Linked DNA regions of Homo sapiens: region 2 is linked to region 1. Evidence: fine-mapped expression QTL. A gene starts in region 1. The other region holds a variant in brackets. All regions are shown on one strand. Distances are from middle to middle.

What was found.
Region 2: its variant is fine-mapped to the expression of CAPN9-AS1 in lung (TOPMed, PIP above 0.99).

Annotation. Positions count from the first base shown.
Region 1 is chr1:230,790,708-230,799,040 of GRCh38, reverse strand. It overlaps CAPN9-AS1 (CAPN9 antisense RNA 1), which reads left to right and starts at 3,830. Exons shown (of 2, transcript XR_001738518.2): 1 at 3,830-3,928. CAPN9 (calpain 9) reads right to left here. Exons shown (of 20, transcript NM_006615.3): 15 at 7,113-7,177; 16 at 6,547-6,615; 17 at 6,113-6,191; 18 at 3,762-3,878; 19 at 821-879.
Region 2 is chr1:230,711,108-230,719,440 of GRCh38, reverse strand. It overlaps AGT (angiotensinogen), which reads left to right and starts at 5,319. Exons shown (of 5, transcript NM_001384479.1): 1 at 5,319-5,355. The variant A/C (reference allele first, on the strand shown) is at 5,301.

The sequences.
Region 1 (8,333 bases):
AGATACAGGGAGGGAAAGAAGGAAAAGGGAGATAAAAATTACAGAACCATTGAAGGAAACTGCTCCACAGTTTCCCCTCTGCCTTTGGGCAGGAGAATGTCTCAAGAGCGTTCCCAAGCTTCATGTGCACAGGAATCAGTGGGGTCCTGTGAAAGACGACTTCCATTCAGCAGGTCTGGGGCAGGGCCTGGCACTCTGCATTTCCAACGCTCTCTCCTAAGTGATGCCTATGCTGCTGCTGGCCCATGGACCTCCCTGTGAGCAGATGGGTCCACTGGGATCCTCTGGGGAGAGGGTGATTGAAACCCCCTGGAATCCTTCTCCCATACCTCTGACACTCAGACCCATGGTCTCCCACCCCCGTCATTGCTACAATGGCCCCGGTAACTGGCCAGTTTTGTACTTATTGGAGTCTGGGGGAGTGTCATGGGAACCACGGGACAACATGAGCAAGGGAGAGTGAGCAAACTGGCAGCTGGAAGGCAGGCAGGCTAAGTTACCCAAATGACAGAAGGAAGAGAAGGACAAGAAGGCAGAGTCTGCTCACTCACTCAAGTCAAGGTGATTAATCTCTCTATGCCTCAGTTTCCACCCTGCAAAATGGGGATACTATTGGTACTTAGCTCACAGAATTATTGTAATGGCTTAATTGATTACTTGATAAATAGTATCTCAAAAATATTAGCTATTTTGTTATAATCACTCCCACAGCTAGATGTCAGCCCTTGCATGAAATCAAGCATTCGGCAAACATCTATGCAGCGTGGACTCTGCTGGGCCCCAGCTGGGTCCCTGAGCAGAGGGTCTGGATTGGCCATACCTCATTTATATTGAGATGAATGAACTCCTTGTTCTTTGTACTGAGAGCCTGGAACACCCCTGATAGGAGAGAAGGGGGAAAGGCATCCTTTTAAAGACAATTCCTTTACCAAGTTTGTTTCCCAGCGACCAAAGGGCCTTCCAGTGGAGCCTGTGGGGAAGCTGCTCCATCTGGTGGTAAACAAGGACTTTCATCAAGGGCGGCGATGGGACTCTCATCAAGGGCGGGCTGAAGGTGAACTTCTCTGAACGGATGGAGGCATCCAGTCCTGTAGCAAGCCAGTGGTCACCTAAGCCAGTCAGCCGGCCAGCAGCTCCTGGAGCCAAAGCAACGCCCCTATCTTAACCTTCTGGGGGGTACAGGGCCCTTGAAATCCATAGGCCCCAGAAAAAAAGCACACGCACGTAAAGTTTTGCATGAATCTGAAAGTTGTTAGTCTCGCCCTTGTAGGAAGGTGCCGTGGGTGCTGTCAGAGGACAGAGTGGCACAGGAGAGCGTGCCAGCACTGAGCTGGGGGCTGGGTCTACCGCATGGTGTAGTGACCTGAGTGCACCTGAGCAAGTCACTGCCCTCTTGGGGCCTCAGCCTCCTCACCTTCAGAAGACGAGGTCGAGCCAATCAGCCCTGGCTTCACTTGAGAATCTCTCGGGTAGCTTTAATAATACAACCCAAAGCGGGGTGGGGGACCATCACTGGACACAAGAAATGGAAGAGACCCAACAACCAAACATGGTGACTGGGTCTTGTGTGGATCCTGAGTCAACCAAGCAACTGTAAAAAGGTGGCCTGGAAGACTTGGGCATGAACCGGGCACTAGAGAATGTTGAGGGTTTGCTGAGAATTTCGTTAGGTGTGCAAATGGTATGAAGATGATGCTAAAAACAAGTCTATCAGCTGGAGATACTCAGATGAATGGACAGAGTTTCTGAGATCTGCTATTAAATTATTTAGGGGGAAAATGTATGTGTTGCGGGAGCACAAGGGAAAAGTTAGCAAGATGGTAATTGTTGAGGTTGGGTGTAAAGGTCTGGAAACACCTGGCGAATTTGCGTAACTCCCAATGCTGTGTGCCACCCCTGAGATTCTAACAGAATTGGTCAACTGTGCAGCCTGGTCATCAGCATTTCTTTAGGCACCCCTGGAGATTGTAATGTACAGCGAAGTTTGAGAAGTGCTGATGTGGAGTGCATGGGAACCTATTATGATTCTTTATATCTAACTGGAGGGTTGACATTCTTACAATAAAAAGTTAAAATAATACTGCAGCAAAGCTCCATCCTTGGTAATTCTAAAAGTTCTCCAGGCAAATCTAATGTGAGGATGCCAGAGTGGATGGTGTTAAGCCTAAAGGGTCTTCACCCTAATATTCCTCTACTATAAGAAAAGCTGAGGCACTCCCACCCCCCGTTCTGGGAAGGATTACACCTGGGTGGTTTAGAAAGGGAAAGAGCAATGGAGAGAAGAGAAACTAGCAAATCTCATTATTTCTAGGGTCAGCTCTGACCACCCTGTAAGTCTAATAACGGATTCTGTTTCAGGAGGGGTCTTTCTAGAATGCACCTCTCACTAGCTACCAGTAACCCCTTAGGGAAAGCCGGCTTCCTGGCTTGATATACTAGACCCTTTGGGGCCTGCTGGTCTGTCTCTGATTTTCTCTCATCATTCCTTAATCAACACATACTCATTGATTGTCCAGAAATTACGGCTCTCCTGGAGCTTAGAGTCTAGAGGGGCTGTGCTTCAGGCAAGTAATTAGTGTTCTATTACCAAAGAAGCAGAGGGAGCTATCATGCTGATAACCAAGGGTCACAGCCCTCACCTTTTTATTTTAATTTAATTTAATTTTATTATTTATTTATTTATTTATTTATTTATTTATTTATTTATTTATATTTTTGAGATGGAGTCTCCCACTGTTGCCCAGGCTGGAGTGCAGTGGCAAACCTCAGCTCACTGCAACCTCCACCTCCCAGGTTCAAGGGGTTCTCCTGCCTCAGCCTCCCGAGTAGCTGGGATTACAGGTGCATACCACCACATTTGACTAATTTTTTGTATTTTTAGTAGAGACAAAGTTTCGCTATGAGCTGGTCTCGAGCTCCTGACCTCACGATCCAACTGCCTCAACCTCCCAAAGTGCTGGGATTACAGGCGTGAGCCACTGTGCCCAGCCCCCTGCCTTTTTTTTTTTTTTAATCAAGTATTCATACCTCGAAGTGGCCTATGGAACATAGATTAGAAAATACCAAGCAGGACAAAATGGAAATGCGGGGCCCCCTGCTCCTAAGTTGTGAAGACTTTCAAGATGGAAACGCCAGAACATTAAACCAAGCACGAGGCACCCTTGAGGGCACGGGTCCTTTGGCACCTGCACACAGGGCATGTCCTCATAGCCACTCCAGTACTGAGTTACAGGCCCTGGACATGCTTCACTCAGCCTCACCTTCAAAACCACCTTTGAGGGGCAGGATGGCTATGACAATAAACTGCAAACACTGAAGCGCACGGGCACATAATCCCTCTCTATTTGTGGTGTAACAAATCTTATTTGAGATAACTGGGTCAATGTCTAGGGCTTACAGGGCGGGGAAGGGGGGAGGAAGGGGGACTGAGACTCTCCTGTTTCTATATGCTATGATGGGATTTGACCTGCAATTGAACCTTTCCTCAAACACAAGGCACAAACCTGCCCCAGCCCATCATCCTCCCACAGAGGCACTGTGAATGTATAAAGAAAGGCGATGCTAAGAAACGTGCTGCAGGGGAGGCTGGCACATTCTGCTCCTTAGCTAACCGCACAGGCCCATGGGTCCACACACATCAGACCATGGCTCTCTGTGGTCTATCTTTGCCATTACTTTAACCAGGCTGTTTCTCATGCGCTCATGGAGGGTGACTGAAGATGCCACCCCGAGGTGCACCCTCAGCCTCGCTGGACACTTACGGCTCGCATTCTCCAGCCGGACCAGGCAGTTGAGGAAGTCATCGAAGTCCAGCTGGAGCTCCTCATCCGCATACCTGAGCACAATCAGCTGCAGGAGGTGGCTGCTCAGCTGAAAGCCTGTGGGGACAAAGGAGGAGACCCAGGACTCGCTGTATCCGAGCCCCGAGGTGAGTCTGCACCTTTGAGGGAGCTCCCAGGCAGCTGAGGAGAGGGCTCAGAAGAGGAAGCCACTGTTTCACTCCTCAAAGCTGGGGTCCCCAGACCCAGTGGGACTGCTGCCCTTGGTGTGAATGCAGCGTGAGAGTGTGAATCTGTGGTGCAGGGGCGAGTGTGCGGGGGACTCTCAGGCGTGCTTTCTGTGTTTAATGGCTTCTGAGTTTAGCGAGTTTGTGATCTTAATTTTGATGCTAACATCACCCATAGAGTCTCGCTGACTTTACAGGAAGCTTTGTTTGGGGGAACTTAACACTGGGTGGTGTCTGAGCCCCAAGTTCATTCCTACACCAGCCTCCCCTCGCGTTCTATGTCTCAGGTCACTTCCAGCTGTGGCCCTAGAAAGTTTCTTGGAGGGGATGCTGCTGCCCACGGAGAATGATACTCTGCCAGGGCCCATTCCTACACATCCACGATGGGGGAAGAATGACAGGCTATAGCCAGGAGGCTTGGATCTGAGCCCTGGCACTGCTCCAGCCGTGGCATATGGGTTCAGTTCTCTGGGCTTTGGTTTCCTCATTGTCAAATGAGGAGTTTAGACAAAGTGAACTTCCTTCTGGATTTGATATTTAGATTTTTTTTTTTGAGATGGAGTTTCACTCTTGTTGCCCAGGCTGGAGTGCAGTGGTGCAATCTCGGCTCAGTGCAACTTCTGCCTTCTGATTTCAAGTGATTCTTCTGCTGCAGCCTCCTGAGTAGCTGGGACTACAGGCACCTGCCACCACAACTGGTTAATTTTGTATTTTTAGTAGAGGCGGGGTTTCATCATGTTGGCCAGGCTGATCTCAAACTCCTGACCTCATGATCCACCCACCTAGGCCTCCCAAAGTGCTAGCATTACAGGTGTGAGCCACCACACCTGGCCAGTGCTTTGATTTCTAATTAGTGCCCTTAGAAGTGATTTCTTTCCCCCTTTCATTTTTGTCTACATGTTCACTTTCTAGGAGGTGTTCACAGGATTGTTCAGAAATCCACCCAGGGTCTTTCTGCTTCTTCCTAATTCCAGCAGAGGAGCAGGCAGGTCAGACACAGAGCACAGAGTCCCTGGAGCCTGCACGGCAGTGCTGGCTGCCAGCCTTGGCCAGAATCCTGATGTTTGGGGCTAGAGGAGGGGGATGAGGGGCGATTCTCCCCACACCACGTCAGGGTAGGAAAGACACAGCCATGCCCCTCCTCTCTGAGTGCTCCCTTTGTCCCCTGCTCAGTTCCTCCTCCTACCATGGAAACAGAGTCATCATCCCCTAAGAAAATCAGGCGCCCCTTCTCAGCCTGGCACTTTGCTCATTTATAAATCATCTGATTTTCTTCTCCCTCACATAGGACCCGAGATGGTCCTGGCTGTGTATACTTCATCCTTTTATCAGGCCTGAGCCTGGACATGTTTCCAGATTTTGCTTTCCCTGGGAGAGAACCACTTTAAAAGGTTCAGGAGGCCCCTATCTGTGAGGTGTGCTTGGTGAGAAGCGCAGGCAGCCCGGCAGGCGGGAGGTCTGCAGAGCGCTCGTGGAAACTACGGTTGTGTGTGCAGGACATGGGACCACAGAGATGCCGACAGCCATCCAGCACCGGACAAGAGTGGGAAATGCCACCTGGAGCCCAGCCTTTGGGTAAGGGAGCAGGGTATAAACTATGATGCAGTCATCCATTTTGGATTCAGAGTCTGATGCTGATAAAACCCGGGACAGGGCCACAGGTGGCAGAGGGACGTGCGGACCCCAAACCATGGGTGCTGCATGCTCTGTCTCATCCACGATAACAACCATCTGAGAGCAGAAATGAGAAGTTTGGAATCACTGCAGCTTGCCACCAAAGAGCCATGTGTTAAGTACTGGGCCAGAAAACATGGTCAGAGGCTATGAGGCCTCCAGAGGGCAGGCCAAGTTCATTTTTAGCAGATACATTTAAAAAGTTTCTACCAATGTTCACAGTGGTTTAAAATGAGGGCCCTGGTGTCAGGAAGTGAGTCCTGGGTCTGAACCCTGGTGCCACCACTCCAAGGGCCGTGACCTTAAGAATCACCAACTGGGCTCAGAGGCCCACCTCCTGGGCAGCAGAGAGAAGACCTGCCATCTGCTCAGGTTGCCCACAGGCAGTACCTGGCATGCAGTCAGCCACCTGTACTCCAGTCTTTTCTTTACCTGCAGCTTTCAGTGCAGTCCGTAGTTCATAGGTAGACATGGTGCCGGACTTGTCAGCATCAAACCGAAGGAAAAGGTTCTAAAGGGTGGAGAGCAGAAGCCTTGAGAAGGAGCGTGCCTGAAAGGCATCGCTGATGGCAGTAAATGGGTGACAGCCAGCCCGGGGGAGCTACCCTCTAGGGGCCGCAGAGGCCACAGTTGGACTGGGCCTTCCAAAAGAAGTCGGTCTCCCTTTTGTCTTCCTTTTCGTCTTGGGTGGAAGCACGGTGGTACTCCCGTAAGCATCGGAATAGCATGATGCTGTTTTCCCTTCTCCCCTGTCCGAATACAATTCCTCTAGCCTATAGCCTGCAGCCTGCTGCACCATTTTAAATCCCCTCTGCTCTAGGTTCACTGGGTCCCCCAGAGGCCAAGCCCTGCTCCAGGTTACATACAATCCACTGCTTCAGCTTGTCCCAGAACACTTTGAATTCATCAAACTCCAGCTTCCCATTGCCGCTGGTCTGTGCCATGTGGGTTAAGGGAGACATGAGCAGTGTTTCAACCTGAGGCTCCTCGTGGGACCTCAGCTCTGGGACTGCAGAGGGGGAGGGCCGATGGGCTGGCCTGGGTGCACAGGTTTGGGGCCCTGGGGAAGTGGTTTTAATGATTAAACCACAAATCTCTGAAGAGGGGAAACGGCAGAAGTGGAATGGGGGTGGTCCCGGAAAGTTCACAAAAACAGAACTCTGTTCCCTTGGATGGGATCCCAAAGTGGCAAGAAGACCCCCAAGTCCCTTCAAAAGCTCCCCACCCCCACCACTAGGCAGTCTTGTGCATCTTGATTCTGATCCAATTTCAGCATGGGGGTCCCCCAGCTTTGGGTTATTTTCTGTGAAGAAGACTATTCTGCTGGCTAAGGATGTCATGTTCTTGGAGAGTCTGCACTATTGAAGATTACTCTACTGTGCTTAAAGCCCAGGATCCATGTCTATTTCTGCTCAAATATTTGGAAGGATACGTCCATCAGGGAAATGATGTTTTTACAGGAGATCAGGCTTAGCTTCTTGAATTTGATGTCCTTTTCTGAAATTGCACATGAAAGCTGAATTCAGTTGACCCGATAAGATAAACCTATGTACCCATCTGCTGAAAGCCCAATAATGTGGCTAAATCCAGGGCTGTTGGGGGCTGTGATGTGGCTACTCTCTTATGATGCTGGTAGGAGTAGAAGTTAACATGACCTTTCAGAAGGAAAATTGGCTAAATGTGAAAAAAGCAATAAAAGTGGGAATACGCCTTCATCCATTTATTCTAGTTCTAAGAACCCCGAGCAAAGAATAACATATGAAGATTTTTGTCATCATATTATTTATAGTGGCAAAAATTTGGAAGTGAAATAATGACCAATAGAGAGGCATGGTCAATACCTTAGGCTATGTCTATATAATGAAGTATTATACGACCCTTAGGAATCATGTTTTTGCAGCATATTTAATGGCAGGATTTAAATTTGTTGGAGAAATTTGTACTCCCATACTGCTGCTGGTGAAAATGTGAAATAGTCACTTTAGAAAACAGTTGGATAGTTTTTAAAAACATTAAACATAGAGTTAAGCAATCCTCTTAACTAAACATATAATTAAGAGGATGGTTATGCCACCATGTAACCATAGACTGTTGCATTGTGATGGAACCATCCTCATAACTATATACCCAGGAGAAGTAAAAACACATGCCCACCCAAAAAACTTGTATAGGAGTGTTTACAGTTGCATTATTCATAATGACCAAAAACCGGTAACAACCCACGTGGCCACCAATAGATGAATGAATAAACAGAACAGGGCCCATCCATACGATGGAATGTTGTCTGGCTGTAAGAAGGAATGAGACATTGATACATGCTACAGCATGGATGGACCTGGAAAACATCACACCATGTGAGAAAAGCCAGTCAGAAAGGACCACATATTGTATGATTCCTTTTTTTCCCCCTGAAACGGAGTATTGCTCTGTTGCCCAGCCTGGAGTGCAACGGTGTGATCTTGGTTCACTGCAAACTCCACCTCCCAGGTTTAAGCAATTCTCCTGCCACAGCTTCCCGAGCAGCTGGGATTACAGGTGCCCACAACCACACCTGGCTGATTGTGTGTGTGTGTGTTTATTTTTAGTAGAGATGGGGTTTCACCATGTTGACCAGGCTGGTCTTGAACTCCTGACCTAGGTGATCCGCCTGTCT
Region 2 (8,333 bases), 80 kb after region 1:
GCGAGACTCCGTCTCAAAAAAAAAAAAAAAAAAACATAATGATAATAATAATAATAAAAAATAGAAAGAAATGTGCTGCAATCACAAAATTTCCCAGAACTTTATCTTATATGACCGTTTTCCTCCAGCTCATGGACAGCTATGTCTGAATCAACAGCAGTCCATAGGGCACTGCCCGAGGTATCAGGTGATGTCTAAAAGGATTCAATAGGAGGAGCAGGCATCTGGGAATATACCAAAGGAAATAAAGTCAACACCTAGTAACAATATCTGCACTCCCAAGTTCAATGCAGCATTATTCACAATAGCCAGGATATGGAAACGACTTCTGTCTGTCAACAGATGAATAGATAAAGATTTGGCATACTGTATACACACAATGGGATACTATTCAGCCTTCAAAAAAGCATAAAGGCCAGGCATGGTGGCTCATGTCTTAATCCCAGCACTCCGGGAGGCTGAGGTGGGCAGATCACTTGAGCTCAGGAGTTTGAGACCAGCCTGGGCACCATGGTGAAACCCTGTCTCTACAAAAAAGTACAAAAAAGTTGGCCAGGTGTCATGGCATGCATCTGTAGTCCCAACTACCAGGGAGGCAGAGGTGGGTGGATCACTTAAGCCAGGGAGGTCAAGACTGCAGTGAGCCATGATTGTGCCACTGCACTCCAGCCTGGGTGACAAAGTGAGACCCTGTCTCACAAAAAAAAAAAAAAAAAAAGCGGTGTGGAACTGTGCCGCTTGCTACAACATGGATGACTGGAAGACATTATGCTAAATGAAACAAGGCAGATACAGAAAGGAAAATACTGCATGACCTCATTTATATGTGGAATCTTTTTTTTTTTTAAAGTGAATATACAGAGATAGAGAATACAACAGTGGTTACCAGGAGTTGAGGAGGAGAGCAGGGAGGAGATGTAGGTCAAATGATACAAAGCAGCAGATATATACGATGAACAAGTCTAGAGATCCAGCGTACAACATGAGGACTATACTTAAAAATGTCACATTGCACTTGGGATTTTTGCTAAAAGAGTAGACTTTACGTGTCCTTGCCACCTAAATGAGTAACTGTGAGATGATGGATATGTTAATTTTCTTGACTACCATAATCATTTTACTATCTTCATATCAAAATATCATGCTGTACACCTTATATAAATACAATAAAAATTATTATTAAAAAAGAAAGAACAGGCTGAGAATGGTGGCTTATGCCTGTAATCCCAACACTTTGGGAAGTTGAGGTAGGAGGATCACTTGAGACCAGTAGTTCAAGATCAGCCTGGGCAACATAGCAAGACCCTATCTCTACAAAAAATAAAAATAAAAAAATTAGCCAGATATGGTAGCATGCACCTGTAGTCCTAGTTACTCTGGAGACTGAGGCAGGAGGATTCTTTGAGACATGATCATGCCACTGCACTCCAGTTTGGAGGACAGAGCAAGACCCCAACTCTAAAACAACACACAAAAATACAGCCATTTCTCCTGGGTGAAATGGGGGAGCTCAGACTATTTTGTTTTATTTGTCAGGAGTCTAAAGCCCATGTGAGCCAACTTAAGAAAATTCTGTTTGTATTTGAGTGTTCTTTATTGGAAAGAAATGGACTTTTCCCTAATGAGCCCATTTTACAAATCGAGAGCTCCAAATGCCCGGTTCCAGCCCCCATGATATAGATGGGCAGCAATGAGGACCAGAAATGCTGGGAAGTGTCCTTGTCATGCAAGGAAAACTTGGAACTTCAAGGATCCATCATGGGATGCAGGACAGTAGGCTCCACCCCTCTTCCTGCTTTCCAGTAAATGATGTTCAGGGCTCACATGCCTCTTCCAAGGCATGATGTGGGGTTGCAGTTCTGATCCCAGCAGAGAACAAGGCTCCTGTGAAACAATTAGTTTTGGCTCAGAGGCAAAAAATGGAAACCCCATTCCTGTATTTACCCTTCATTCTTTCCTTACCTCATACAGCTGGTTCCAGGTTTGATTGCATCATATACATAAATAAATAATCTGCTTTCCTGGTTTGGTTTAGTTTTGCTGGAGAGAGGAGTTTATGTGTTCATCCCATGACTAGCTGGGTGGTCAAGAGATTGGAAAGTAGGAGTTCTAGTTTAGACCAAGTCTCATCTCAGAAACCACAGAGTAGAACTGATCCCAAACGTCATCATCCCTGTAGGGAAAAGAAAGAGAGATCAGACTGTTACTGTGTCTATATAGAAAGGGAAGACATAAGAGACTCCATTTTGAAAAAGAGCTATACTTTAAACAATTGCTTTGCTGAGATGTTGTTAATTTGTAGCTTTGCCCCAGCCACTTTGACCCAACCTGGAGCTCACAAAAACATGTGTTGTATAAAATCAAGGTTTAAGGGATCTAGGGCTGTGTCAAAGTGGCTGGGGCAAAGCTACAAATTAACAACATCTCAGCAAAGCAATTGTTTAAAGTACAGCTCTTTTTCAAAATGGAGTCTCTTATGTCTTCCCTTTCTATATAGACACAGTAACAGTCTGATCTCTCTTTTTTTTCCCTACATATCCCAATAGCACCTGCCTGACTAATACATCATGCTCTGCTGACTCCATATGTGGCTGGTTTCCTGGATCCGATTCTGACTGATGGTATCTGTTCTCACGCTGCTAATAAAGACATACCAGAGACTGGGTAATTTATAAAGAAAAAGAGGTTTAATGGACTTATGTGTTCCACGTGGCTGGGGAGGCCTCACAATCATGGTGGAAGGTGAAGGAGGAGCAAAAGCACATCTTACATGGTGGCTGGCAAAAGAGAGAAAGCATGTTCAGGGGAACTCCCCTTTATAAAACCATCAGATCTCATGAGACTTATGCACTATCACAAGAACAGCATCAGAAAGATCCACCCTCATGATTCAATTACCTCCCACTGGGTCCCTCCCATGACACATGGGAATTATGGGAGCTACAATTGGAGATTTGGGTGGGGACACAGCCAAACCATATCAGATGGCTTATTTGGTTTCTATGTAGAACCTCTGCTTTTCATTCAACAGTCTTCATTTAGCCACAGATAAGCTCTGTCCCTAACTTCCACTGATGGAATGTACACATAAGAAACTTCCACTGATGGAATGAACACAGAAGGTGCCTACTGGGAAGAAAACTGGCCTGAATCTGAGCTGGGTCAAATGTCTGCAGTCAGTTTGAATGGCTGCTCCTTATGGGAATAATTTACATTCTCAATAAAATTCTCTAGCAATTTTCTGATTGATTTTAATGAGCTTTAAAGCCTTACGTAGAAGATCCCCCAGCTGATAGTCAGCCTTGGGCATGGATTAAGGGCTTTTAACCAATCTTGCAACAAGTTTAAGCAGATATTCTTTATTGGGTCCAATCTAACCAAAATTATTTTCTTATGTTCTCCCCAGTAACGTGTCATTATTAAGAGAAGTTTGGCTTGCTTAGAGGCCAAATTTAGAGGGTCCTGAAATTTTATTTTCTTTTACACCACTTTCCAGCATGTTACCTGATCAGTTGTTTATTATCTTTGCTGTTGAATGGAGTGATCATTCCAAGGGCCCGAGGCAGGAGGCCCAGGCACAGTGGAAACTCTCCCAAAGACCAGGATCTTTGTTTTGTTCCCTGACATATGCTGAGCACCAGGAATAGTGAGTGAATGAAACAAATTGTGAGGCTTTAAAGAGCCGAAATATTTAAACACTGGGCACAAGGTTGTTGCTTAATCAGTGCTAGATCCTTACCTCCCCCTTGTGTCCAGGTGGACTTGTTACTGCAGTTAAACCACTTGCTGATCCTCAAACAACTAGTTAGTGGCACAGCCAGGCCTAGGACCCCAGTCTCTACTGTTCCAACTAACCCATTCGCAGGCAGGAGCACTTTGAATGGTCTCTTATTTTAAAAAAATTAAATTAAAATTGTCTATTTATTTAGAGACAGAGTCTTACTCTGTAGCCCAGGCTCGAGTGCAGTGGTGCAATCATAGCTCACTGTAACCTCCATCTCCTGGCCTCAAAAAGTGTTTGAATTACAGATGCGAGGCACTGTACCTGGCCCGAATGTTCTGTTCAGACAAAGCCACCTCTAAGTCGCTGTGGGGCCCCAGACAAGTGATTTTTGAGGAGTCCCTATCTATAGGAACAAAGTAATTAAAAAAATGTATTTCAGAATTTACAGGCCCATGTGAGATATGATTTTTTTAAATGAAGATTTAGAGTAATGGGTAAAAAAGAGGTATTTGTGTGTTTGTTGATTGTTCAGTCAGTGAATGTACAGCTTCTGCCTCATATCCAGGCACCATCTCTTCCTGCTCTTTGTTGTTAAATGTTCCATTCCTGGGTAATTTCATGTCTGCCATCGTGGATATGCCGTGGCTCCTTGAACCTGCTTGTGTTGAAGCAGGATCTTCCTTCCTGTCCCTTCAGTGCCCTAATACCATGTATTTAAGGCTGGACACATCACCACTCCCAACCTGCCTCACCCACTGCGTCACTTGTGATCACTGGCTTCTGGCGACTCTCACCAAGGTCTCTGTCATGCCCTGTTATAATGACTACAAAAGCAAGTCTTACCTATAGGAAAATAAGAATTATAACCCTTTTACTGGTCATGTGAAACTTACCATTTGCAATTTGTACAGCATAAACACAGAACAGCACATCTTTCAATGCCTGCATCCTGAAGGCATTTTGTTTGTGTCTTTCAATCTGGCTGTGCTATTGTTGGTGTTTAACAGTCTCCCCAGCTACACTGGAAACTTCCAGAAGGCACTTTTCACTTGCTTGTGTGTTTTCCCCAGTGTCTATTAGAGGCCTTTGCACAGGGTAGGCTCTTTGGAGCAGCTGAAGGTCACACATCCCATGAGCGGGCAGCAGGGTCAGAAGTGGCCCCCGTGTTGCCTAAGCAAGACTCTCCCCTGCCCTCTGCCCTCTGCACCTCCGGCCTGCATGTCCCTGTGGCCTCTTGGGGGTACATCTCCCGGGGCTGGGTCAGAAGGCCTGGGTGGTTGGCCTCAGGCTGTCACACACCTAGGGAGATGCTCCCGTTTCTGGGAACCTTGGCCCCGACTCCTGCAAACTTCGGTAAATGTGTAACTCGACCCTGCACCGGCTCACTCTGTTCAGCAGTGAAACTCTGCATCGATCACTAAGACTTCCTGGAAGAGGTCCCAGCGTGAGTGTCGCTTCTGGCATCTGTCCTTCTGGCCAGCCTGTGGTCTGGCCAAGTGATGTAACCCTCCTCTCCAGCCTGTGCACAGGCAGCCTGGGAACAGCTCCATCCCCACCCCTCAGCTATAAATAGGGC[A/C]TCGTGACCCGGCCGGGGGAAGAAGCTGCCGTTGTTCTGGGTACTACAGCAGAAGGTAAGCCGGGGGCCCCCTCAGCTCCTTCTCGGTCTTGTCTCTCTCAGATGTAACTGAGCTGTGGGCTAGGAGGAAAAGGCCGGGAGGAGGCACGGTGATGACTGAAAAACCTCTCCCCTCTCATAAGACCAGTCATCCGGACGCGGGCTTTCCCCCACTCGGTGCCCACCTGGGGTCTTACAGGAGGAGCTGCTCCTCCTCAGCAATAGGACAAGATGGTCAGGTCTTCCTGCTTCCGCTGAGAAAAGTTAGGGTCCTCAGGAACGGAGCAGACTGGTACAGGAACAGAGTCATCATGGCCAAGAGTCCACCGGGTCCTCTTGCCATCAGGAGGAATAGCAGGGCTTGTGCAGGAATTGGGGCTGGAGGGAAGGGCCGGGCTCGGTCAGTCTCCAGCTGGGATCCCCAGAGTGGTCACCCTACCCCTCCCTCGAGACAGACTGCCTGACTGTGTGTCATCAGGCTGGTCACCATCTCCCTGAACCTCGATTTGCTCACCTATAAAATGGAACTAATAACGATGCCTGGGCTCCCTGTCTCAGGGGCTCTGGTATAGCTGAAGAGAACTAATATAACATGAAAGTGCTTTCTAAGCTTTGGGATAAGCTAAAAGGCAGATTCCAATTTTATTCGAGGGCAGCGTAGATTGGTGCTTCAGCTCGTGGATGACAGAGTCAGGGGGCCTGGTTCTGAGTCCTAGTTCTGTCTCTTCCCAGCTGTGTGACGTTGAACAAGTCACTGGACCTCTCTGTTCCTCTGCAAAACAGCATGAACCAATTCATTAACTACTTCTCCAGGATGCAGTAGGTCCCAGGGACTATCCTAGGAATGTGGGCTGTATTAGTAAACACAACAGCGGGAACCCTGTTCCGGGGCTCACATTCACATCAGAGCAAACAGACAAAGACGCTGGACAGAATAAGTGCATAACTACATGGTACAGAGGGTTATAAGGAGGGAAAAGGGGAGCTGGATGAGAGAGTTGAGAGTGCCCGGTGTGGTGGGGAAAGCTGCAGGGTGAAATACTGCATCAGGGAAACCTCAGGGAAGGTGAGGACTATGGTGAGGTCAGAGGGGTTGATATGAGAACAGTGCCCTGCAAATGGCAGGCACCACAGGAGCATGAGCCGTCATCTTCACCTTTAGCATTCAGCCCGGGAGAAGTAGGGAGACATAGAAGGGGCAGGTGCTGGCCAAGAGGCAGGGGCAGGAGAGGAGAAGGCGGAGGGGCACTCAGGGCGAGGGTGTCAGGCCCGCCACCCCAGAGCACCATTACTCCCAGGACGCGGCTGCGTGCAGACCTGGAACCAGCCTAGGGAGCAGCCGCAGATCACAACTGAGAACAAACGACAGTCTCTGCCTCAAAAATGGCCCATGGAATTGCGTCTCTGGAGACGCTGCCTGAGCAGGAGCAGCACAGTGAGCGGGCTGCATCGACCAGCGCCATCCAAACCCCGAACAGTTGGCGCTTGTCAGGCAGGACTTCCCAGCAGTCGGTTCCCACAGGTTTCCCCTGTTGACCTGATTTGATGTGACTGTCTAGATTAGGTGTGAACTGGTGGCTTAGGCTTCTCTGCACAGAAAGGCCTGCAAGCAGCAGAGAGAGTTTTCTGTTCCATTTTTCCATGTCATGTGGCTCTTCCTGAGAACAGCGGATGGAGTCAAATGCATGGGGAGTGGGGTGAGATGGTAGCTGAGGTCAGAATTTGGCATTTGAATGACTGAAGCAGAACAAAACACACCAGGTACTTCAGCAGCTGCACCGTGTTGAGGGCAGGTGCTGGTTACGGGTCTGGGTGAGGGAAGCCAGCTGCCAATGTAAGAAGAATGACTGGGTATGCTTAGATGAAGCAGAAAAATCTAGGCATCAAGGTGGCCTTGAGTCAGTGATGACACGCTACAGCTCCAAGGAAGCCTGGCCTAGCCCTGGGGGGACAGAAAAGGCCAAGAAGTGACGATATTGCAGTACACCCCCCTCCACAAGAAATGAGTGAGATGTGGTACAAAATGTTAGAATTGAATGAATCAATAGAATAAACGTTCATCCCTTCAATCAAGAAGAGTCAGATGAAATGAATTAGCAGGGCCAGCCCAAGAACCTCTTCTGGGGGTCTCAGGGTAGCTTTCATTTGTAGCAGCTGAGGCTGAAGCCCAGCTGCAAGGCCTTTGAGAGAACGTGGTGCTGGACCCGTGTCTAGGGCAGGGGTTCTAAACCCTGCTTACATATCAGAGTCACCTGAGAATTTTCTATTTTTTTTTTTTTTTTTTTATACGTGGTCCCAGCACAGACTAAGGAATCCAACTATCATTGGGCAAGCCATGCTAGGTATGCATGCCTTTGGGGCTCTGCAGGGGATAGCGCTATGCAGGGATGGTTGAGAGCTGGTTTTGGGGTTGAGACACGTGGGAAATACTTGGACTTTGGGCTGAGCCTGTGGTGCTCAATCCCGGCTGCATGTTGGGACCACAGGGAGATGACAAAACCATCCCCAGCCCTCACCCTAGGGCCCTCGAATGAGCATCTCAGGGGTCTAGGAGGCCTCCACAAAGACCTACTGATTGGCACACACTTGTTTCTCTAGGAAGAGAACTTACAGCTGCAGGCAGGAGCATGTCTTAATCTGCTTGGGCTGCCATAAGTACCACAGACTGGGAGGGTTTAACAACAGAAATGTGTTATCTCACAGTTCTGGAAGCTAGAAGCCTGGGAGCCAGCCATCAGCAGAGTTGGTTTCCTCTGGGTCCTCTATCCTTGGCTTGTAGATGGCCGTCTTCTCTCTGTGTCCCCACATGGTCTTCCCTCTGTGTCCCCACATGGTCTTCCCTCTGTGTGTGTCCATGTCCTCATCTCCTCTTCTCATAAGGACACAGGTCATATTAGATCAGGGCTCACCCTCATGGCCTCATTTTAACTTAATCATCTCTTTAAAGATCCTGTCTCCAAATAATGGTCACATTCTGAGGTCCTGGGGTTGAGG